5 linked regions of the Homo sapiens genome follow. The protein of the gene in region 3 purifies or fractionates together with the protein of the main gene of each other region. This does not show direct contact. Each region holds a gene or a part of one and is shown on either strand. Other genes may lie near its edges.

Evidence for each region.
Region 1: the proteins of MON2 (region 3) and VSIG1 purify together in Homo sapiens (co-immunoprecipitation; one large-scale study listed by IntAct). This does not show direct contact.
Region 2: the proteins of MON2 (region 3) and AKAP10 purify together in Homo sapiens (tandem affinity purification; one large-scale study listed by IntAct). This does not show direct contact.
Region 4: the proteins of MON2 (region 3) and PAAF1 fractionate together in Homo sapiens (co-fractionation; one large-scale study listed by BioGRID). This does not show direct contact.
Region 5: the proteins of MON2 (region 3) and DOP1A purify together in Homo sapiens (co-immunoprecipitation; one study listed by IntAct). This does not show direct contact.

Annotation. Positions count from the first base shown.
Region 1 is NC_000023.11:108,051,552-108,056,524, forward strand, and holds part of VSIG1 (V-set and immunoglobulin domain-containing protein 1 isoform 2 precursor), read left to right. Parts: intron 1-4,973.
Region 2 is NC_000017.11:19,932,667-19,937,639, forward strand, and holds part of AKAP10 (A-kinase anchor protein 10, mitochondrial isoform 1 precursor), read right to left. Parts: intron 3,765-4,973; coding exon 3,620-3,764; intron 1-3,619. UniProt on the Homo sapiens protein: Differentially targeted protein that binds to type I and II regulatory subunits of protein kinase A and anchors them to the mitochondria or the plasma membrane.
Region 3 is NC_000012.12:62,472,790-62,477,762, reverse strand, and holds part of MON2 (protein MON2 homolog), read right to left. Parts: intron 1-4,973. UniProt on the Homo sapiens protein: Plays a role in regulating membrane trafficking of cargo proteins. Together with ATP9A and DOP1B, regulates SNX3 retromer-mediated endosomal sorting of WLS away from lysosomal degradation.
Region 4 is NC_000011.10:73,906,980-73,911,952, forward strand, and holds part of PAAF1 (proteasomal ATPase-associated factor 1), read left to right. Parts: intron 1-2,419; coding exon 2,420-2,614; intron 2,615-4,973. UniProt on the Homo sapiens protein: Inhibits proteasome 26S assembly and proteolytic activity by impairing the association of the 19S regulatory complex with the 20S core.
Region 5 is NC_000006.12:83,136,309-83,141,281, forward strand, and holds part of DOP1A (protein DOP1A), read left to right. Parts: intron 1-864; coding exon 865-2,854; intron 2,855-3,691; coding exon 3,692-3,803; intron 3,804-3,912; coding exon 3,913-4,095; intron 4,096-4,973. UniProt on the Homo sapiens protein: May be involved in protein traffic between late Golgi and early endosomes.

The sequences.
Region 1 (4,973 bases), on a different chromosome or scaffold from region 3:
ATATGAGTTTCCTAACATAGTAGACAAAATGTTCAATCAAAAATCATCTGTCATACCAAGAATCAAGTAAATCACAACTTGACTGAGAAAAGGCAACTACTGCCAACATTAAGATGAGTTCGATGTTGGAATTATCTGACAAGGATTTCAAAGTAGCCATCATAAAAATGCCTCAACAATCAATTAACATTATCTTAAAACAAATAAAGAAAAAAAAGGAAACTTGCAGAAAAGAAAAAGAAGTTATAAAAATATAAGAAAGAAGGAAATTCTGTCATTTGCTACAGCATGAATGAACCTGGGGGACATTATGCTAAGTGAAGCAAGCCAGACACAGAAAGACAAACACCACATAATCTCACTTATATGTGAGATCTAAAAGAGTTGAACTCAGAATTAGAGTAGAATGGTTACCAGGGACTGTGGCTTGGAGGGAGTGGGAAATGGGGAGAAGTTGACCAAAGGGTACAAAGTTCCAGTTAGACAAGAGGAATAAGTTTTTAAGACCTATTTTGCAGCATGCTCACCATAGTTGATAATAATGTATGTGCATTTCAAAACTGCTAAAAGCATAAGATTTTAGTCTACACATTGGGTACAGTGTACACTGTTCGGGTAATGGGGGCACCAAAATCTCAGAAATCACCACTAATGAACTTATCCACGTAACCAAACATCACCTGTTCCCCAAAAAAGTATTCAAAAAAATAATAGATTTTAAATGTTCCTGCTATGAAAAAAACAAAACGAAACAAAAGATAGGTAGGCCAGATGTGGTGGCTCATGCCTGTAATCCCGCCACTTTGGGAGGCCAAGGAAGGTGGATCACTTGAGCTCAGGATTTCGAGAAGAGCCTGGGCCACGTGGTGAAACCCTATTTCTACCAAAAATACACACACACACACACACACAAAATTAGCTGGGCATGGTGGCATGTGCCTGTGGTCCTAGCTACTCGGGATGCTGAGATGGGAGAATTGCTTAAGCCTGGGAGGCAGAGGTTGCCGTGAGCCGAGATCACACTACTGCACTCCAACCTGGGTGACAGAGTGAGACCCTGTCTGAAAACAAAACAAAACAGAACAAAAAACAAAAAAAAGGATAAATTACGTGAGGTGATGGATATGTTAATTAGCTCGATGTAATTATTCCACAGTGTATGCATATATTAAAATATCACATTGTATCCCATAAATATATGCAATAATTATTTGTTAATTAATTAAAATAAAAATTAAGTTAAAAACAAGAATTTAAAAAATACATACTTTGCAATTATCTACTATTTTTCTAAAGACCCTTACAATCTATAGGCTCTTTCTCAGTTTTCTTTTTTCCCCCTTGGAATTATTTTTTGAATAAAACTGGCTTGTTTGTCCCCTCCCCCCAAAAAACAAATATAAATTATAGAACTGTAAAATAAAATAACAAAAATGAAAAACTGGCTGATGGACTCAATAGAAGAGCAGAGATGACAGAAAATAGAATCCATATCTGGTGAAACTATCCTTCAGGAATTAAGGGGAAATAATTAAATTCTCAGTTGAAGGAAAACAAAAAGATTTGTTGCTAGCAGACATACTGTTAAAAAATAGCTAAAGGGATTTCTTCAAACAGAGAATAAATGATAAAGAGCAATCAGGAAGGATGAAAGGACAACAGAAAGAGCAGAAATGTAAGTACATAAAGTAGACTATCTTTTAACTCATGAGTTCTATAAATCATATTTGATAATTGAAGCAAAATTATAACACCATTTTATACTCTAGACAATGATATTTAAAAGTGGGGAAGGTAAAGGAAACTAAATGGAAGTGAGGTTTATACACTTCAATCAAAGTGGTAAAATATTGATATGAGTAGACTGTTATGACTCACACATGAATGTTGAATACCCAGAGAAACCACTGGGAAAACTCTACAAAGATATATATTTTAAAACACTATGAATAAGTCAAGATGGAATCATAAAAAATGCTCAAGTAACTATCAGAAAAGCAAGAAAAGGGAAACAGAAGAATAAGAACTAAAGGGAACAAACAAAAAACAAATAATAAAATAGCAAACAAGAATAATATATCAATAATTACATTAAATAATTATATTGAATGCGAATACCACTACAGTAGTCCCCTTTTATCTGTGGTTTTACTTTCTGAGGTTTCAGTTACCCATAGTACAGTATAATAAGATATTTTGTGAGAAAGAGTGTGAGTGTGTGAACACAATCACATAATTTTTACTCCAGTACATTGGTATAATTGTTCTATTTATTAGTAGTTATCATTGTTAATCTCTTACTGTGCCTAATTTATAAATTAAACTTTATCATAGGTTTGTGTGTATGGGGGAAAAATATATATAGTATACATAGAGTTCAGTACTATCCATGGTTTCAGGCATCCACTGGGGGTCTTGGAATATATCTCCCTGGAATAAGGGGGAACTACTCTATATGCTATTCACAAGAAACTCACATTAAATTTGATGACATAGGAAGATTGCAAGTAAAAATATAGAAAAAGATGTACCACATAAGTATTAATTTTTCAAAAATCTGGAGAAGCTTCATTAATATCTGATAAAATAGTCTTCAGAGCAAAGAAAGTTAAAAGAGATAAACAGAGACATTACCTAATGATAAATGGATCAATCCAGCAGGAGGATACAATGATCCTTAATGGGTACACACCAAACAACTATGTCTCAAAATTCATGAACAAAAACTGATCAAGCTAAAAGAAGAAAGAGACAAATCCACAATTATAGTTGGGAAATTCAATACCCCCTCTCAGAAATTGATAAATCTACTAGACAGAACATCAGTAAATATAGGGAAGATCTGAAAAAGACAGTCAATTAACAGGATCCAGTTGAATATTTTTACGATTTTATATTGGTTTTTCCATAGTGGTTTTAAATTATATCTCTTTGTATAGAAAACTCCACCCAACAACAGCAGAACACACTTTTTTTTGGCACCTACAGAACATTCACCAAGATAGATAATGTGCTTGGCCGTAAAACAAACCTAAACAAATTTAAAATAATTGAAATCATACAGAGTATATTCTCTGACTACAATGCAATGAAACTAGAAATCTGTAGCAGAAAAGTATCTAAACACGTGGAAATTAAACAACACTGTTCTAAATAATCCGTGGATCAAAGAGGAAATCTCAAAAGGAATTTTTTTAAAAATGCGTAGAACTGAATGCAAATGAAAACACAACATATTGAAATATGTACCATGTAGATAAAGCAATTCTGAGAGAGAAATTTCTAACACTAAATGTTTACATTGGAAATAAAGGAAGGTCTTAAGTCAATAACCTAAATTTCTACATCAAGGATCTAGAAAAGAAGACCAAAATAAACCCAAAGCAAGCAGAAGGAAGGGAATAATAAAGAGCTGAAATCAATGAATTTGAAATAGAAAAACTATAGGGAAAAATTAATAACACAAAAATTTGCTTTTCTGAAAAAAAAATCAGTAAAACTGACAAACTTCTAGCAAGACTAATAAAAAGAGTTAAGACCCAAATCACTAATATCAGAAATGAAATATGGAATATCACTATAGATCCTGCAGTCATTAAAAATATAATGAGAGAATATTATGAACAATTATACATTCATATATTTGACAACTTAGAAAAAAATTGGCCAATTTATCCAAAGCAGCAAACTACTAGAACTCACCCAATATGAAATGGATAATCTGAATAGCTCTATAACCATTAAAGAAATTGAATTCATAATTTTAAAAGCTCCTACAAAATAAATCTCCAGGCCTAGATAGCTTCAGCAAATAATTCTAGCAAACATTTAAAGAATTATTAAGATCAGTTTTACACATTCTCTTCCAAAAAATAGAACAGGAGGAAACACTTCCAACTCATTTTATGAGGCCAGTATTATCCTGATACCAAAACCAGACAAAAACAGTACAAAAATAGAAAACTACAGGCCAATATCTCTCTCATGAACTTTGACACAAAAATCCTTAGCAAAACACTAGCAAATTGAATCCAACAATGTATGAAAAGAATTATACACCATGACCAAATGGGATTTATTTCAGGTTTGTAAGGCTGGTTCAACATTCAAAAAGCATTCAGTGTAATCCACCATATCAACAGGCTAAAGAAAAAAAAATATGATCATATCAACTGATGCAGATAAAGCATTTGACAAAATCCAATACCCATTCATCATTAAAACTCAGCAAGTTAGGAATAGAGGGTGTATTTGTTTCCCAGAGCAGCTGTAACAAATTGCCACAAATGGGGTGGCTTAAAGCAAGAGAAATTAATTCTCTCACAGTTCTGGAGGCCAAATGTTTTAAATCAAACTGTTGGTTTCTTCTGAGGTCTCTGAAGGAGAATCTGTGCCATAAGTCTCTCTTAGATGGCTGCTGGCAATTCTCGGTATTCTTTGGCTTATAGATGCATCATTCCAGTCTCTGCTTCTGTCTTCACAGAGCCTTTCCCTTTGTGAGTCTCTGTGTTAAGCCTCCCTCTCCGTTTTCTTATAAGGACAACAGTCATTGAATTTAGGGTCTGCTCTAAATCAGTGATTATCTCATCTCAGGATCCTTAATTACATCTGCAAAAACCCTATTTCTAAATAAGGTCACATTCACATATACTGGAGGTTAGAAATTGAACTTATCTTTTTGAGGGACACAATTTAACCCCCTACAGAGGAGAATTGCCTCAACTTGATAAAAACACCTACAAGTAACCTACAGCCAACATTATACTTCATGGTGAAAGACTGAACGCTTTTGCCCTATGATTGGAAACAATGCAAGGATGTCCACTCTCATCTCTCTTATTCAACATAGTACTGGAAGTTGTAGCCACTGCAATTAGGCAATAAAAATAAATAAAAGGCCTACAAATTGGAAATGAAGAAATAAAACTCTCTATCCCCAAAAGATTTGCATCTAGATTATATAGAGAACTCTC
Region 2 (4,973 bases), on a different chromosome or scaffold from region 3:
GATAACTCACCAGGCGTGTGATTGCTGAGTTAAATTTTAACTTTAATATATATGGTCACTTTACTCTTCAAAAGAACATTATCAATTTCAATCACTAGCAATATATCAAAATATCTGTTTCCACATTGTTTTTTTTTCAAATAATTCTTAAATAAATGCCTAATTGTACATAGATGTTTTTATTTACATTTAATAATTATTAATTATACTGAATGAGTTCTCATGTTTATTATTTATATTTCTAATTCTACGAAGGAAAAGTTTGTAACTGGACAAGCAAATAATAAACATGAGAACTTATTCAGTATAATTTGTAAATATTTATGTTCGTATTTAATACGTGCCTTTGTTGTTTGTTTTTGTTTTTTTGAGACGTATTTTCGCTTTTGTCCCCCGGGCTGGAATGCAGTGGCATGATCTCGACTCACTGGAACCTCTGTCTCCCAGGTTCAAGTGATTCTCCTGCCTCAGCCTCCCGAGTAGCTGGGATTACAGGTGTCCGCCACCACACCCAGTTAATTTTTGTATTTTTAGTAGAGACGGGGTTTCGCCATGTTGGCCAAGCTGGTCTTGAACTCCTGACCTCAGGTGATCCACCCGCCTCGATCTTCCAAAGTGCTAGGATTACAGGCGTGAGCCACCGTGCCCGGCCAATATGTACCTTTTTTGTAGACTAAGCTCCAGGATAGCAGAAACACATTTATTTTGTTTACCACTGTAACACTACCATCTAGCACAGAAATACTCAAAGTTTTTGTTGAATGAATCATTCATGTCTTTTTTCCTACCTAACTACCAGGGTCTTGACAGTGTTCTTAAAATTAGTCTAAGTTCCTTACATACACACATCTAGTAAGAACTATTTTTGCATTTTTCTCTCTGCATTTTAATTTTATTACCCTGAAAATTTACATTCTTTATATGATACAGATCTGAACTTTTCCTTTAAAATCAGAAAAGGTTTAATTTTAATCGTGAAAATATTATCATCATTGGGTAACAGCTGACACTCTATTCTGTTTACTACTAGCTATTTAATGATTTGACTTCTATATGTCATTCTTCAGTATTCCTAAAATTCAGTTTTTATGTATGGTATTATATAATAGCGTTTAATTAAGTTTTTTCACCTGGATACACATGACACATACAAGCAACATAACCTCACTGGCTCTGAAATTCCTGGAAAAATCTCCTCTAGTTCATTAGAAGAATAAATCATTCACAAACATCAATACTTTACTTTTATTTATTTATTATAATTATATTTTTGAGACGGAGTTTTGCTCTTGTTGCCCAGGCTGGAGTGCAATGGTGCGATCTCAGCTCACTGCAACCTCTGCCTCCCGGGTTCAAGAGATTTTCCTGCCTCAGCCTCCTAAGTAGCTGGGATTACAGGCATGCACCACCACGCCCGGCTAATTTTGTATTTTTAGTAGAGATGGGGTTTCTCCATGTTGGTCAGGCTGGTCTCAAACTCCTGACCTCAGGTGATCCACCCACCTCGGCCTCCCAAAGTGCTGGGATTACAGATGTGAGTCGCCGTGCCTAGCCAACGCTTTATTATTAATAAGCTATTAATAATACCTTGTGATCATAATACCCAAAACTAGGGTTCCAATCCTGTTGACAGTTACTGGTGATATATGTGGATCATTTCTAAGCTAACGTTGCGGCATAATGCCTTCTTTAATTGTTCAAGACAGGGTCTTGCTCTGTCACCAAGGCTGGAGTGCAGGGGCATGAACACGGCTCACTGCAGCCTTTAATTCCCAGGCTCATGCAATCCTCCAGCTTCAGCCTCCTGAGTAGCTGGAACTATAGGTGCATGCCACTACGCCCAGCTAATTTTTGATACTGCTCTCTAATTATTTAAAAATACGTAATAATAATAGTAATAAAAGTAGTTAACATTTTTTGATGCTTACCATGTGTCAGGTACTATGTTAATATGTATTTTATATACATTACCTTACTTTAATCATCAAAGTAACTTTGAGGTAAACGTGCATATTATCGTCACTTTACAGATAAGGAAAATGGCATTAGAGAATTTCAGTTACTGCCCAGGCATGGTAGCTCATGCCTGTAATCCCAGCACTTTCGGAGGCCAAAGCAGGCAGATCACTTAAGGTCAGGAGTTCGAGAACAGCCTGGCCAAAATGGTGAAACCCTGTCTCTACTAAAATACAAAAATTAGCCAGGTATGGTGGTGCCTGCCTGTAATCCCAGCTACTTGGGAGGATGAGGCAGGATAATTGGTTGAACCTGGGAGGCAGAAGTTGCAGTGTGCCAAGACTGTGCAACTGCACTCCAGCCTGGACAATGGAGTGAAACTCTGTCTCAATCAATCAATCAATCAATCAATCAATAAACAGAATTTCCGTTAGGCTGCTTGCCATTGTGCTAACATCACAGAGTGTACTTATACAAACCTAGATGGTATGGCCTACTACACCCCTTGGCTATATGGTACAACCTATTGCTTTTGGGCTACAAACCTGTATCACATGTTACTATAATGAATATCGTAGGCCACTATTGCAATGGTAAGAATTTGTGTATTTAAACACAAATACAGAAAAGGCACAGTAAAAATACAGTATAAAAGATAAAAAATGGTACATCTGTATAGGGCACTTACCATGAATGGAGCTTGCAAGACTGGAAGTTGCTCTGGGTGAGTCAGCGAGTGAGTGGTAAGTGAATGTGAAGGCCTAGCACATTATTGTACACTACTGTAGACTTACACTGTACACTTAGGCTACACTAAATTTATTTAAAATTTTTTTCTTTAATAATAAATTAGCTTACTGTAACTTTTTAACTGTTTTACTTTTTTTAGCTTTTTGACTCTGTTGTCATAACAGCTTAAAACACAAACATATACAGCTGTACAAAAATATTTTCATTATATCCTTATTTTATAAGCTTTTTTCTATTTTTAATTTTTTTTTTCTTTTTAAATTTGTTTGTTAAAAACTAAGACAAACACCCACATTAGCCTAAGCCTACACAGGGTCAGGATCATCAATAACACTTTCTTTCACCTCCACATCTTGTCCCACTGGAAGGTCTTCAGGGGCAGTAACACGCATGGAGCCGTCATCTCCTTTGATAACAATGCCTCCTTCTGGAAACCTCCTGAAGGACCTGTCTGAAGCTGTTTTACAGTTAACTGTTTTCTTAGTAAGTAGAAGGAGCACTCTAAAATAATGATTAAAAGTATAGTACAGTAAATATGAGGCAACAGAGATTTTTCAGCTCCATTATAATTTTTTTTGTTTTGTTCTTGGTTATTCTTTTATCTTTTTAGTTTTTCTTTTTTCTTTTTTACTTATTAAAATTTATTTTTTCTAACTTTTGTTATTATTGCACTACCAGCTTTGATCCATTATAATCGTACAGGACCATCGTACACGCAGTCCACTGTTGACTAAAATGTTATGTGGCACGTGACTGTACATACCAGGCCAGACTCAAGGCCTCTGCTCTTAATCACTTTGCTGGACTGCTTCAATTTCCACTGTGCTATTCTGCTTGGTTTTCCCACCTTATATTTTATGAGTTCTACCAATAAAACTTCTTGTAGTTTGATACGTTTGAAGTTCTGGGTTACCTTCTCCATGGTTGTCCAGGCCTGACGTAATGGAGTTGTGAAACAGTTGGGGAGTGGCCCACCTTCCCTGCAGATATTGGATTCAATTTCTAATCGTACAACATCATCAAATCCAAGAGGATGTGTGGCTTGGAGGGAGAAGTACCTATGGTAAAAAGATATCCGAAGTAAAATCAAATTCCATAGCAAGTATAAGCAACTTTCAGCACCTCCTCCAGAGAATCTTATACAAGGCTACTTGATTGAGCCTGCAGGCCTAGAACTATAGAGCTATGTGATGACAGTGCTGATGTAACCTTTCTTTGTTCCCACTTCCCCAGAGATAGTTGGGTCAACTTGCTACCTTTCTATCTGCCTGCCAACCATCCTTAGTTCTTGACGGTGAACTCTACTGTTGTTTAAAAGCTGTAAGGATCAGACTACAACTGAGGCAAAGAAACTAACAATCACATATTTATGGGTACCTATTCTCTGTTGAGGACTTGATAGATAGAAAGGAATTTATAGGAAAGGAAGACATGGTCATTTTCCCTAAAAAGCGAGCTGAGAACTTGTATGCACAGAATAAAATAAGAACACATCATCATAACTACAAGGCATCAGGAGTAAACATGTACAAATTCAAAACAAAACAGCACTGAGGGGTGAGCTAGATGCATATGACCTATTTGGATAGAACAGGACTTACTGATGACTCGGTGTGGAAAGGGAGTAACCAATATTGATAACACAAAGATTTCTACCTTGATGGGGTATAATGCAGGTAATGTTTTGGTAAGCTGATTATGAAATGAATACCAAAAAAAGCATTAAATGCGAGAAAAAAAAAAAGGCTCTCTTCCAAGCACTCTAATGGTTTCTATGTCCTGACAGAAATACAAAGGTTGATAATGCATGATTATGATGATGCATATATATGATACAAAAACAAGCAGGCTGGGCACAGTGGCTCACGCCTATAATCCCAGCACTTTGGGAGGCAGTGGTGGGTGGATCACTTGAGGTCAGGAGTTCAAGACCGGCCTGGCCAACATGGTGAAACCCTGTCTCTACTAAAAATACAAAAATTAGCTGGGCGTGGTGGCCCCCACCTGTAATCCCAGCTACTCAGGAGGCTGAGGCAGGAGAACCGCTTGAACCCAGGAGGTGGAGGTTGCAGTGAGCTGAGATCGTGTCACTGCACTCTAGCCTGGGTGACAGAGCAAGACTCCATCTCAAAAAATAAAAAAGAAGAAAAAAAAGAAAACTCTCCTTTTAAATCAGCATTTTTGTAACAAAATGTGAATCTCCTATGTTGTATTGAGTAAGTTGGTCAATACTCCTCCACGACTTGAATGTTCAGGCATTTTAGACC
Region 3 (4,973 bases):
GAGGTGAGGTGGGGAGCAGTTAGGAGGATTTAAAGTAGACTAATCTAGGCCAGAAGTAGTGGCTCACGCCTGTAATCCCAGCACTTTGGGAGGTCAAGGCGAGAGGATCGCTTGAGCCTCAGAGCTCGTGACCGCCTGGGCAACATAGGCAGATGCTGTCTCTAAAAAAAAAAAAAAAAAATTAGGCAAACGTGGTGGTGTGAGCCTGTAGTATCAGATACTCGAGAGGCTGAGGTGGGAGCTCAGGAGGTCGAGGCTACAGTGAGTTGTGATTGCACTGCCACACTCCGGCCTGGGCAACAGAGAAAGACCCTGTCTCAACATAAATAAATAAATATAAAGTAGATTAAGTTAATCATGGTACCCTAGAGTTAGGAATGAGAATCCAAAGGGTTGAAAATGAGAGAAGAACATAGCCTACCAACGAAGGAAGCAAAAGGGAATGGATGGTAGCAAAGGAATTAACAAATGTCCACTCAAAACTATGTATAGATTTACACACACAAAAAAAGTTATTTAAAAGGTTACTTTTTTTTCACAAAAGTTGCTGTTCTGCTTGGTTTTGTTTTTGAGATAAGGCATCACTCTATCAACAGTAGTGTAAGGACATCCTTTGAAAGGAAAAAACAAACTATGGACCTACCCAGTACAGTGACGCCTTCATAACTCACTGCAGCATTGAATTCCTGGGCTCAACCAATCCTCCTGCCTCAGTCTCCCAAATGGCCGGGACTATAGGCACACACCACCACGTCCAGCTAATTTTTTAGTAGAGATGGGGGTCTTGCTATGTTGCCCAGGCTAGTCTCGAATTCCTATCTCAGTGATCCTCCAGTCTTCGCCTCCCAAAGTCCCAGGATTATATGCATAAGCTTCCACACCTAACCCCTGCTCTGTTTTTAAATAACAAATGTTTTTCACGACTTCTATGAGAATAAAACCTGGATATTAAGGCAAATTTACCAAAGGTCCAAATTATTTTTCCACAGGACACAGCATGAAACAAGAGCTAAAGAAGAAATGTGAGGCTGGGCATGGTGGCTCATGCCTGTAATCCCACTACTTTGGGAGGCTGAGGTGGGTGGATAATTTGAAGTCAGGCATTCAAGACTAGCCTGGCCAACATAGTGAAACCCCGTCTCTACTAAAAATACAAAAAATTAGCCGGTCAGTAGTGGTGTGCACCTGTAATACCAGCTACTCAGGAGGCTGAGGCAAGAGAATCGCTTGAGCCTGGGAGGCATAGGTTGCAGTAAGCCTAGATCATGCCACTGCACTCCAGCCTGGGCAATGGAGCGAGACTCTGCCTCAAAAAAAAAAAAAAAGTGAAATTCAAGTTAATGGCAACTTAGATAAAATAATATACTAATGAGACACAAGAGAGGTATGGAGCTGCCTGAAGACTTGTGATTTCAGATGTCAGGTAAAATCAAAAGACCCGAAGTCAAGTGTACACTGGGAGTACTTGATACATCTAGAACACCCTTTAGGTGACAAAATGCTCACAAAACAAATACTACATTGAAATCAATAAGATTTTCTTCTGTAACATTCAATTATTCTACAACCCTAAAACCTTCTAAAAATATATACCTATATGACATTCTATTCTAGAACCTCTGGCTTCTAGAAAACAAAATTTCCTTAACAAATCAAAGACTGGAATGCAGATTACATGTATATAACTAAAAATATATACATGGTATTCCCACATAGGTGGTATGCTTTTTCCTTCCTTTTCTTTTCTTTTTGAGACGGAGTTTAGCTCTCGTTGCCCAGGCTGGAGTGCAATGGCGAGATCTCGGCTCACTGCAACCTCCACCTCCCGGGTTCAAGTGATTCTCCTGCCTCAGCCTCCCGAGTAGCTGGGATTACAGGCGTCCGCCACCATGCCCAGGTAATTTTTTGTATTTTTAGTAGAGATGGGGTTTCACCACATTGGCCAGGCTGGTCGTGAACTCCTGACCTCAGGTTATCAGCCCGCCTCAGCCTCCCAAAGTGCTGGGATTACAGGCATGAGCCACTGTGCCCGGCTGAAGACTAAATTTTTAAGAAAAGGAGGATGGGTGTGGTGGCTCACGCTTGTAATCCCAGCACTTTGGGAGGCTGAGGCGGGCAGATCATGAGGTCAGGAGTTCATGACCAGCCTGGCCAACATGGTGAAACTAAAATACAAAATTACTAAAAATACTAAATTACTAAATGCTAAATTCACTATAGTGCAAAGCATTTGTATACCTAGGAGGTGCTAATTAGATACTTGTTGAAGATTAATTTTTTTTTTTAAAGATAGAGTTTCACTCTTTCACCCAGGCTAAATTACTAGATTACTGAAAATATTCTACCAAAAATACAAAAATTAGCTGGGCATGATAGCGGGCGCCTGTAATCCCAGCCACTTTGGAGGCTGAGGCATGAGAATCACTTGAACCTGGGAGGTGGGGGTTGCAGTGAGCCAAGATTACACCACTACACTCCAGCCTGGGCAAGAGTGAGAGACTCCATCTCCAAAAATAACAACAACAACAAAAAAACAAAGAAGCCATAACATGAAAGACAGAAGCAGTAGGACATATTTGGAGACTAGCAGGTAACCTAGTTGGGGTGAAGCATAAAGGCATATGAAGAAGATTTGAGGGTGATAAAGCTAAAAAGGAAGGTTAGGAAAATCAAGAGAATATTAAATGCTATGTTAGAGTCCTATAAGTAGAGTAGACATTGTGGGCTTCTGCATGGGTGACATACAGAATGATTTGAAGTCATGTATGCTATTAATGTATGTCAAAGGCCAGGCATAATGTTACTAATAGAATCTGGAACTAGCATAATAGCTGAGAAAACAGAAAAAAGGAGAAGTATGCTAAAAATTACAGAGCTGGAAGGAACAGGTGACAGTGAATAAAGAGAGATGAGGGAGAGAAGATAGCCAAATATGACTAAAGTAGGCAACAGTGCTAGATACCATTAACAAAACAACTGAAATAGGGGGAAAATGACGTTTTGAGGAAAAGACCAGTTCAATTACAAGAAGTTCTATCTGGCTGGCCGCGATGGCTCACACCTGTAATCCTAGCACTTTGAGAGGCCGAGGCGGGCAGATAACCTGAGGTCGGGAGTTTGAGACCAGCCTGACCAACACAGAGAAACCCCGTCTCTACTAAATATACAAAATTAGCCAGACATGGTGATGGGCATCTGTAATCCCAGCTACTCAGGAAGCTGAGGCAAGAGAATCACTCGAACCCGGGAGGCAGAAGTTGCGGTGAGCCGAGATTGCACCACTGCACTCCAGCCTGGATAACATGAGTGAAACTCGTCTCAAAAGAAAAGAAAAGAAAAAGAAGAGGCCAGGCGCAGTGGCTCACACCTGTAACCCCAACACTTTGGGAGGCCGAGGCGGGCGGATCACCTGAGGTCAGGAGTTCGAGACCAGCCTGGCCAACATGGTGAAACCCATCTCTACTGAAAATACAAAAATTAGCTGGGCGTGGTGGCAGGCGCCTGTAATCCCAGCTACTCAGGAGGCTGAGGCAGGAGAATCGCTTGAACCTGGGAGGCGGAGGTTGCAGTGAGCTGAGATCGCACCATTGCACTTAAGCCTGGGGGACAAGAGCGAGACTTTGTCTCAGAAAAAAAAAAAAAAGAAAAGAAAAGAAAAAGAAGAAGTTCTACTGACGCATGTGAAAAAACGTCCTAGATGTGTTTGATGTGCAGCTGGAAATGCAGATCTACACTCAGTAAAGAGAGCAAATGACTGAAGTAGATTTAAGAGTCATCAGCATCGCAGCAAGTCCAGAGGCAATAGGAGTGGATGATGCCAAGCAGGTGAGCATGGAGAAAGGAAGGATCTGAAGAGAGAACCTGGGAGACACTTGTATGTAAAGAAAAGGATGGCCGGGCACAGTGGCTCGGGTCTGTAATCCCAGCACTTTGGGAGGCTGAGGCAGGTGGATTGCTTGAGCTCAGGGGTTTGCGACCAGCCCAGGCAACATGGCAAAACCCTGTCACTATGAAAAAATACAAAAATTTGCCAGCCGTGGTGGCATCTGCCTACAGTCCCAGCTACTCAGGAGGCTGAGGTGGGAGGATCATTTGAGCCTGGGAGACAGAGGCTGCAGTGAGCCAAGATAGCCCACTGCACTCCAACCAGGGTGACAGAGTAAGACCCTGTCTCAAAAAATAGAAACAAAAAGAAAAAGAAAAGGATGTGGAATACTGAGAGGGGAAACAGGGAAGTACAGTCTTACAAAACTCAAAACTAGAGGGTTCCAAGATGGAAAGAATAACCAATAGTAACAAATAATGAAGCAAGGTAAACAAATGGGAACAATAACAAAAACAAGAAAGTTGTAAAGGCATGTGCAGCATGATATAATGGAAAATGGGAGAGGAGTTAGAGATGGACTCACATGGACTCACATACCATTTCCACCATTTCCACCATTTTCCAGCTTTACTACCTTATGCAAATTACTAAACCTGTCTATACCAGTTTCCTCATCTGTAAAATGAAATATTTAATATGGCATGTTGCATTAGAGTCTAAGGATGCAAAGTTCCAAGCCTAGTGGGAAGGCAACATTTTATTCAACCTTGAGTTAACTTCATGAGACTAAAGGCAATTTCTCAATTATTTCTGTGTTCCTGCTGTGCTTTTTTAGGAGACTCATAAATTTCTGTTAAATTATAACAGTAACAGCAAAACCTTCTACTTCATACATGGTTGAAAATGTTCAGCTATGCTTACATAAAGGAAAAAAGAAAAATAAATCAAATTTTGAAATATGTCTTCCTTTTTGGCTTATAAGTTAGAGAATATGTCTTTTATTTTTTCTGTCACCAAAGCACAGGTAATCATTTATTTCAGTTTATAGCTTTCAATATATAAAGCATGAATATATTATATTACGCTTATGGGAGAAAGAACACAATGTCAAGAGGAAGAAACCACATTATAAAATACTAAACCAAAA
Region 4 (4,973 bases), on a different chromosome or scaffold from region 3:
GCACTACCTCTCTACTCCATACAACTCTGTGTTTTTACACCTGTACCATTGTATTGTATGTCTTTTTTTTTCCAGATATATTCTGTTTGTGTATTTTTTCTCTTTTTTTTTTTCCATTGTAAGTCTTTATGTCTATAATCAACTCTATTTTTTTATGCTGTGTATTCCTGAGGCTAGGGACCATAGCAAATATTCAGATTATAGATAATAAAGGGCTTCAAAAACTATAAAATCGATAGGCATTTTGGACATTATAACACTCGATCTTAATTCCATCATCTTTTTTGGCAGGCAGTTCCCTGTTGAGGTATGGTATGAGGGCTGGGTAGATAAGAATGTTCAGCCACCTACTGGACTCCCCTGACACTACCCTGGCAAAAGTGGAGCACTGACTCATACCGCCTCACACTGCAGACAGGGGAGGTGGAAGTTCAGCTTCCCCCTTGGTCCTGTGTCATCTTCTTGGTGAAAGTAGGACACAGTTGCACCACCTGACTTGCATCACCTCATTGCCTTCTAGTGGCGTTATAAGCTTGGTTCCCTGCTGACTGACACCTGGGAAGGGGTGGTGGGCACCTCAGGGCACCTCTTTGTGCCTGTCACTGCCAGGTGGGGATGGAAACTGAGCTCACTGCTAGATCCTGTGACAGTACCCTACTTAACCTGGTCAACCCCACTGGGTAGGGGAATGGGAGTGCTGCTGCCGGCTTCCATGGGAGCGGGGTAGATGATCACCTCCTGTTCAGCCCCACTGAAACCATGGGGGAGGGGAAGTAACAGTTTTTCTGTTGATGTCTACTGGTATAGGGTGGATGTTGCCAAGATTTCTATTTTGTGAGCTACTTCTTTCTCAGTCTTTGGGCTAGGGGCAACAGACTTTACTGGGAGTTTTGTTTTGTTTTGTTTTTTAACTCTGTTCCTGTTAGCAGTTTTGTGTTGGAGGCTTCTGCAGTGTCCTGTCCAGGACATGTGGGAGGCAATAAGGAAATCCAGGAACTCATTGCTGTGTTGTTTTTTAAGTCCTGAGGTCCTTAAGTGGTCCACCACCTTCTTTCCATCATTCCAAGTCTTACTATGCTTGTGGTGTCAATGACTTTTCAGTTGTAAACAGAAGGACCTAGGAGCAATGGGACTACTCTTTCTTGGCCAAAACCAGAAGTCATGTCCTTTTTTCAAATGGGGAGGCTAACCCTTTTAATCAATTATCAGTGAAAGCAGCAGCAGCATATATGTAAATAAATATATATATATGTGTGTATATATATGTGTATATATATGTATATATGTGTATATATGTGTATATATGTATATATATGTGTGTATATATGTATATATATGTGTATATATGTATATATATGTGTATATATGTGTATATATGTGTGTATATATATATGTATATATATGTGTGTATATATATATGTGTATATATATGTGTGTATATATATATATGGGTCTTGCTCCACTGCCCAGGCTGGAGTGCAGTGGAGCAATCATGGCTTACTGTAGCCTTGAACTCCAGGGCTCAAGCAATCCTCCCACCTCAGCCTCCTGAGTAGCTGGGATTACAGGCACGAGCCACCATACCTAAATTAAATTTTTTGTACAGACAGAGTCATGCTGTGTCACCCAGGCTGGTCTTAAACTCCTGCGCTCAAGAGATTCTCCTGCCTCAGCCTCCCAAAGTGCTGGAATTACAGGTGTGTACCACTGCACCTGGCCAAGGCAGTGATTTTCAAACTGAATTAGCTTAGGTGTCAACTTTTTTTTCCTCCAAAGTTCTTGTTAAGGTGTCTACTTAATTTTTATTTTTTATTTATTTATTTATTTTTTGAGACGGAGTCTCCTCTGTTGAAGGCTGGAGTGCAGTGGCGTGATCTCGGGTCACTGCAACCTACGCCTCCCAGGTTCGAGCGATTCTCCTGCCTCAGCCTCCTGTTTAGCTGGGATTACAGGCATGTGTCACCACGCCTGGCTATTTTGTATTTTTAGTAAAGACAGGGTTTCATCATGTTAGCTAGGCTGGTCTTGAACTGCTGAGCTCAGGCAATCCACCTGCCTCGGCCTCCCAAAGTGCTGGGATTACAGGTGTGAGCCACCACGCCCGACCTCTTAATTTTTCTTTTTAAAAAAGAGTTTTGAAGACAAAATAAAAAACTTGAACATGATTTCTCTAGCACACTCCACTAAAAATTAAATCCAGTACTTGTTTTTCCATGCCTGTCTTTCACAGCTAGACTTTGATTCATTGGGAAGCTGGGACTCTATTTCTGTTTTTCTAGCACTTGAACATGGCCAGCATGTGGTACCTGTTCAGAACATGTTTGTGAAGGGATGGAGTCATTTATGCAGCTCCATCTTCTCTGCCCTTGTAGTTCCTTTACTCCATCCTCCATCTTAGGGAGTTTTTTTCTCTTGCTAGGTATCCTGGATACAGCCATCGTTGATCGGGGGAGGAATGTGGTGTCTGCTTCTCGAGATGGGACAGCACGACTTTGGGATTGTGGGCGCTCAGCCTGCTTGGGAGTCCTTGCAGATTGTGGTTCTTCTATCAATGGAGTGGCGGTGGGTGCTGCTGACAACTCCATAAACCTTGGCTCCCCTGAGCAGATGCCCAGTAAGTTGATAATGATATGTAGCATTGTTTTATTTTCTTAGGCCCCCTTCAGTGATTGCCTTAGTTTCTCCTTTTCTTCCTCATCCTTTTCTGCTCTGTGCCTGGTATTTCTGTTTTCACCATACGATTAATATTTACTCTGTACCTACTATGTTTCTATTACTTTGGAATCTACAAAGGAAGTATATGTCATAGCACTGCGTTTCAGTAAGTACAATCTAATGTAGAAGATGAGATAAATGCCTATAAAGCAGGGGTGTCCGATCTTTTGGCTTCCCTGGGCCACATTGGAAGACTTGTCTTGGGCCACACATAAAATACACAACATTGATGATAGCTGAGCTAAAAATAAATAAATCTCATAATATTTTAAGAAAGTTTATGAATTTGTGTTGGGCCTCATTCAGAGCCACCCTGGGCTGCAGGTTGGACAAGCTTGCTTTAAAACATTTAGAGAACAGTAACATTTGGCTGAAATAATTAGTGATTCTTTTTATTTATTTTATTCTTTTAGCGATAGAGTCCTGCTGTTTTGCCCAGGCTGGCATTGAACTCCTGGGCTCAAGTGATGCTCCCACCACAGCCTCCCTAATAGCTGGGACTACAGGCCTGCACCACCATGCCTGGCAAATTAGCAAGTCCTAATGCAAATATAATAGGTTTTCAGAGGGACGGAGTGTTCCCGGTTAGTATAGATAGGAAAGATGTCACAAAAGAAGTTGGCTTGAACCTTTAGAGGATAAGTTGAAGTTGAACAGACAGTAATTGTAAGGATAGGACAATGGGAGCTAGGGCAAGGGGTAGGTGTAGGGGCAGTTTGCATTATAGCTTGGACGTGAAACTAAGTGTTATATAAAAAGATATGTTTGACTGGGCTAGAAAGTTGAATTAAGAGGGGTAGTAGTAGGAAATGGGTTGAATAGCTGTGGTGAGAGACTAATAAAGGTCCTAATAAGGCAACTTTCCTTCTTATTTTCCCATAATAATAGTTGCATCTCTGTTCCATAGGACAATGTTTTTTCTACTGTTGTCTTAGCCCCTCACATTTTAAAAAATAGCCCTTATTTTTTAGGGCCATTTTAGGCTCACAGCAAAATTTAGCAGAAAGTACAGGGGACCAGGTGCAGTGGCTCACGCCTGTAATCCCAGCACTTTGGGAGGCCGAGGCGGGCGATTCACAAGGTCAGGAGCTCGAAACCAGTCTGGCCAACATAGTGAAACCCCATCTCTACTAAAAATACAAAAAATTAGTTGGGTGTGGTAGTGTGTGCATGTAATCCCAGCTACTCGGGAGGCTAAGGCAGGAGAATCGTGTGAACCTGGGAGGAGGAAGTTGCAGTGAGCTGAGATCGCTCCATTGCACTCCAGCCCAGGCGACAGTGTGAGACTCTGTCTCAAAAAAAAAAAAAAAAAAAAAAGTACAGGGAGTTCTTATATACCTTTTGCCTTACCCACTCACACATAGCCCTCCTCACTATCAATATCCCCCACCAGAGTGGTACATTTATTACAGCTGATGAACCTACGTGACACATTATTGTCACCCAAAGTTCAGAGTTTACATTAGGGCTTACTCTTGGTGTTATATATCCTATAGGGTCTGACAAGTGTACAGTGACATGTATTTACCATTGCAGTATCATACATAGTAGTTTCTTAGCCCTAATAATCCTCTGTACTCTGTTCAAGCAGTTCTCCTGCCTCTCACCCTCTCGAGTAGCTAGGACTCTAGGCATGCACCACTACACCTAGCTACTTTTTTTTATTTTTGTAGAGACAGGGTCTCACTATGTTGCCCAGGCTGGTGTTGAACTCATGGCCTCAAGTGATTCTCCCATCTTAGCCTCCCAAAGTGCTAGGATTACAAGCATGAGCCACAGCTCCTGGCCCTAAAGTAATTTAAATGAGAATATTTTTTCTTGTTTTCTGTAATTTTTCATTTCCCATTTACTCTTCAACCCATTCTAGGATGGTTTGTGCCCAAGTACTTGACTGAAATGGCTGTTGTTAAAGTCACCAGTGACCTTCCTTTTTTTTTTTTTTTTTTTGAGATGGAGTCTCACTCTGTTGCCCAGGCTGGAGTGCAGTGGTGCGATCTCTTGGCTCACTGCAGCCTCCACCTCCCAGGTTCAAGTGTTCGAGTGATTCTTGTGCCTCAGCCTCCCGAGTAGCTGGGATTACGGGTGCCCACCACCATGCCTGGCTAATTTTTGTATTTGTAGTACAGATGAGGTTTCACCATGTTGGCCAGGCTGGTCATGAACTTCTGGCCTCAAGTGATCCACCCTCCTAAGCCTCCCAAAGTGCTGGGCTTACAGGTGTGAGCTATGGGCCCCAGCCACCAGTGACCTTCTTCTTG
Region 5 (4,973 bases), on a different chromosome or scaffold from region 3:
ACCATCAGATGTAGTCATGTTTGTGACATGCCTAAATATTCACTATTACTATATTACTACAAAGTCCATACTTTATAGTTGAGTGATGCCTTCTATACAGTGATATTGTCCCCTTAGATTAATTTATTTCATTTAAGGGACAAAGACTCTCACATATGTCATTTGTCTCTTGACAAACCCTGTGGTGGTAATGAAAAGATCATTTTACTGAGCAGGTTGCTGATGCCTAGAAGGCTATGGCTTTCTCAGAGTCTCATGGCTATTAAGTGATGAAGCTGAAACCAAACTGTCATAGTCCTACTTCATCTCTAGTGTGTTTCTACAGAGTCTTGGTTCCTCTCTCTGGCTTCTTTTCTATTCCTTCTTCTGAATCTTGTAAGAATTTGCATTACCCTGCTTATTGCCAGAATGTCTTTGTGTTAATGCTTTATCTAACTGTCTGCTGAATTCTCACCTCCCCTCTGAGATCAGTGCCAGACCTCATCAATGGTATCATGATTCTTTCCCTAAATTTGCTAGCATTTGGTATGTACTACTTTGTATGTCACTAAGCCTTCCACCTTTTCTAAAAGAAGACCGTCATTATTGTATGCCCCCTAAAAAATACAGAAATGAATTATGTATTTGTGGTTTGCTGCTAATTTTAAAGTCTTTAGAGAGCTTAGAAACAGCATAACTAAAGTGAGGTATTAAGGAGGAAAAAACAAAACTTTCACCTGCAATAAAATAAAATGTAATTTTAGGAAAATATAAGTAGATGATGACACTAATGATTAAAAATTTTGATCAGTCTACATTTCTACATTTCAATTATTTTAATGCATTTTGTATTTTTCTTCTTTTACTGTTTTTCTCATATATCAGTGAGCCAAGTACAACTCATCACATCAAAAGGAAATGGTGAAAAGCCACTTACCATGGATGAAATAGAGAACTTTAGTCTCACTGTGAATCCATTAAGTGACAGACTTTCCCTCCTAAGTACCAGCAGTGAGACAATTCCAATGGTTGTGTCTGATTTTGATCTTCCAGACCAACAGATAGAAATACTTCAGAGTTCTGACTCGGGATGTTCACAGTCCTCTGCTGGGGACAACTTGAGTTACGAAGTTGATCCTGAAACCGTGAATGCCCAAGAGGATTCTCAAATGCCCAAGGAAAGCTCCCCAGATGATGATGTTCAACAGGTAGTATTTGACCTGATATGTAAAGTTGTAAGTGGCCTCGAAGTGGAATCTGCATCAGTTACATCTCAATTAGAAATTGAAGCTATGCCCCCAAAGTGCAGTGATATAGATCCAGATGAAGAGACGATTAAAATTGAAGATGACTCCATTCAACAGAGTCAGAATGCTTTGCTGAGTAATGAAAGTTCTCAGTTTCTGTCTGTGTCTGCAGAGGGAGGCCATGAGTGTGTGGCAAATGGAATCTCCAGGAATAGCTCCTCACCTTGTATTTCAGGAACCACACACACTCTTCATGACTCTTCTGTTGCTTCCATAGAAACCAAATCTAGACAAAGGAGTCACAGTAGTATTCAATTCAGCTTCAAAGAAAAATTATCAGAAAAAGTTTCGGAGAAGGAAACAATAGTTAAGGAGTCAGGTAAACAACCAGGAGCAAAACCTAAAGTAAAACTTGCCAGAAAAAAGGATGATGACAAGAAAAAATCTTCAAATGAAAAACTCAAACAAACCAGTGTATTCTTCAGTGATGGTCTGGATTTAGAGAACTGGTATAGCTGTGGAGAGGGAGACATTTCTGAAATTGAGAGTGACATGGGTTCTCCAGGATCTCGAAAATCTCCCAATTTCAACATTCATCCTCTCTATCAACATGTGCTCCTGTATCTCCAGTTGTATGATTCATCCAGGACTTTGTATGCTTTCTCTGCCATCAAAGCCATCTTGAAAACTAACCCTATAGCTTTTGTAAATGCCATTTCAACTACTAGTGTAAATAATGCATATACTCCTCAGTTGTCTCTCCTTCAGAATCTATTGGCCAGACACCGGATTTCTGTTATGGGCAAAGATTTTTATAGTCACATTCCAGTGGACTCAAATCATAACTTCCGGAGTTCTATGTACATAGAAATTCTTATTTCTCTCTGCTTATATTACATGCGTAGCCATTACCCAACTCATGTCAAGGTTACTGCACAAGATTTAATAGGCAATCGAAACATGCAAATGATGAGCATAGAAATTCTGACACTACTCTTCACTGAGCTGGCAAAAGTAATAGAAAGCTCAGCGAAGGGTTTCCCTAGTTTTATTTCTGATATGTTATCTAAGTGCAAAGTTCAGAAAGTGATTCTTCATTGTTTGCTGTCATCTATCTTTAGTGCTCAGAAATGGCATAGTGAAAAAATGGCAGGTAAGAACCTGGTTGCTGTGGAAGAAGGTTTCTCAGAGGACAGCCTTATTAATTTCTCAGAGGATGAATTTGACAATGGCAGCACGTTGCAGTCACAACTTCTTAAGGTGCTTCAGAGGCTGATTGTTCTAGAACACAGAGTAATGACTATTCCTGAAGAGAATGAAACAGGTTTTGATTTTGTTGTATCTGACTTAGAACACATCAGTCCCCATCAACCCATGACTTCTCTTCAGTATTTGCATGCTCAGCCAATCACATGTCAAGGCATGTTCCTCTGTGCAGTGATACGAGCTTTGCATCAGCACTGTGCATGTAAGATGCACCCACAATGGATTGGTTTAATCACATCTACTCTGCCTTACATGGGAAAAGTTCTGCAGAGAGTGGTTGTTTCTGTGACACTACAACTGTGCAGAAATTTAGATAATCTAATTCAGCAGTACAAATACGAAACAGGATTATCTGATAGTAGGTAAGAGGTGATTTTTAACTTTATTGGTACTGACATTTTTCACATATATGACTGCTTAATGTCTGGAAAGTTGGTCACAACTTGAGTAAATAAAGTAATGGTTTTTGGTAGGTTACAAATAGTGTATTACTTTCCACAAAAAAGAAAATTTGACTTGAGGAAGAGTATCAGTAAAAGAATCTAGAATGGAAAAGGGAAGGAATATTTAAACAGGCTTATTTTCTACCAAGATCTAAAATTAATTTCAATGCTCTTCTCTTCTTGCCTGAGCTGGCAAAACTAATGGGAAGCTTAGAAAAGGGTTTCCCAGGTTTTGTCTGTTTTATCTAAGTGCAAATCAATTTCAGACTGAAAATAATTTAAATTTACAAATCTTTTCCATCCAATTTTATTTCTTGTTTTGGATTTTCATGGTTTAGTGACAAAATTCGATCTGAGTCTCTATGCTCAAAATGAAGTCTGAAAAATTAGTTCCAGTAGACTGTCATTTTTCTTCAGAATAACCTTAGTTTCTACATGTAAAATAATAAGAAAACTGCCTGTATTGTTTAATATTAATATGCCTGCCATTCCTCAGTGGCTAGAGAGTCACTAGCCATCATTTGTTTATTTTGTATAGAATTCTTTAGCCAAAAAGAACTCTAGTACATTTAGTCCAACTCACTTATTTTATAGATTAGGAAATAAAAGCCCCTGATTTATTCTTTTAGCCATTTGTTAATCTAGTATTTATTGCACATCTTCTGTGTACCTGACACATTGTGAGTATTTACTAGTGATAAAATATGAACTATACTATCATAAAACTTGTGTTTAAATGAATGCATTTTACTTCAGGCCTCTGTGGATGGCATCAATTATTCCACCAGATATGATTCTTACTCTTTTGGAAGGGATTACAGCCATTATCCATTACTGTTTGTTGGATCCAACTACACAGTATCACCAAGTAAGACTGCACAAATATTTGACTTCTTTTGAAAGACTGTGAGGTCTAATAAATTTCCATTTGTAAATCTCAGTAAGTAATATGTTTCTTTTCCCCCAACTGTTAATAGCTTTTGGTCAGTGTAGACCAGAAACACTTGTTTGAAGCACGCAGTGGAATCCTCTCAATCCTTCATATGATCATGTCCTCTGTGACACTGCTTTGGAGCATACTGCATCAAGCTGATTCTTCAGAAAAGATGACTATTGCCGCATCCGCATCTCTTACCACTATTAATCTTGGAGCTACAAAGGTTAGACAATTCATATTTAATCTGTAGAGCTCAAGAGTCTGAGGACCTTCCCAAAGATTATATTCAGAATATGTGAATAATTTGTGTAGTATTTACAGGACTCTGCTAATTATCAAATAATTTTTAACAGTTTTCCTGGGCTATGGCTGACGTATCATAGAATTTGCCCATTTTTAAGTATACAATTCAGTAATTTTTTTAGTAAATTTACAGAGTTGTGAACTATCACCCCAGTCCAATTTTTGAATATGTTCTTTACCACAGATTCCTCATGGCCATTTGCACTCACTCCCTGTTCCCATCCCTAATCCCAATCAACCACGAATCTATTCTCTCCATATATTGATTTGCTTTTTCTGAAAAAGTTCATATAAATGGAATGATAACAATATTTGGTCTTTTGTGTCTAGCTTCTTTCACGTGACATATTTTTAAGGTTCATTCATACATGTTATAACTTTATTCCTTTTTTTTTTAGGGCATTTTAAATTGACATTTTAATATGCAAAGCCCTCCTAGAAAACAATTTAGCAATATGTATAGAGAGCTTTAAAGGTTTCATAGTCTTTGACCTAGTAATCTACTTTAGGAATGAATTCTAAGGTAATTGAAATTATACAAAGATGTATATACAAAGTGTTCATTATAGTATTATTTAATGGCAGAAAAAACAGAGATCCTAAACAATTAATTAGGGAATGTTTAAATTATCCTTTCAATGTTTCATTACATAGCCACTAATATTCATGGTTTTGAAGAATTCTTATTGGATGGAGAAGGGCTCAAAAGCTCAGTGAAACAGGGATGTTACATAATTGAACAAATACCATATTTTCAATTATGTAAAAAATGTTATCTGCAGAAAAAGGAATAAAGAA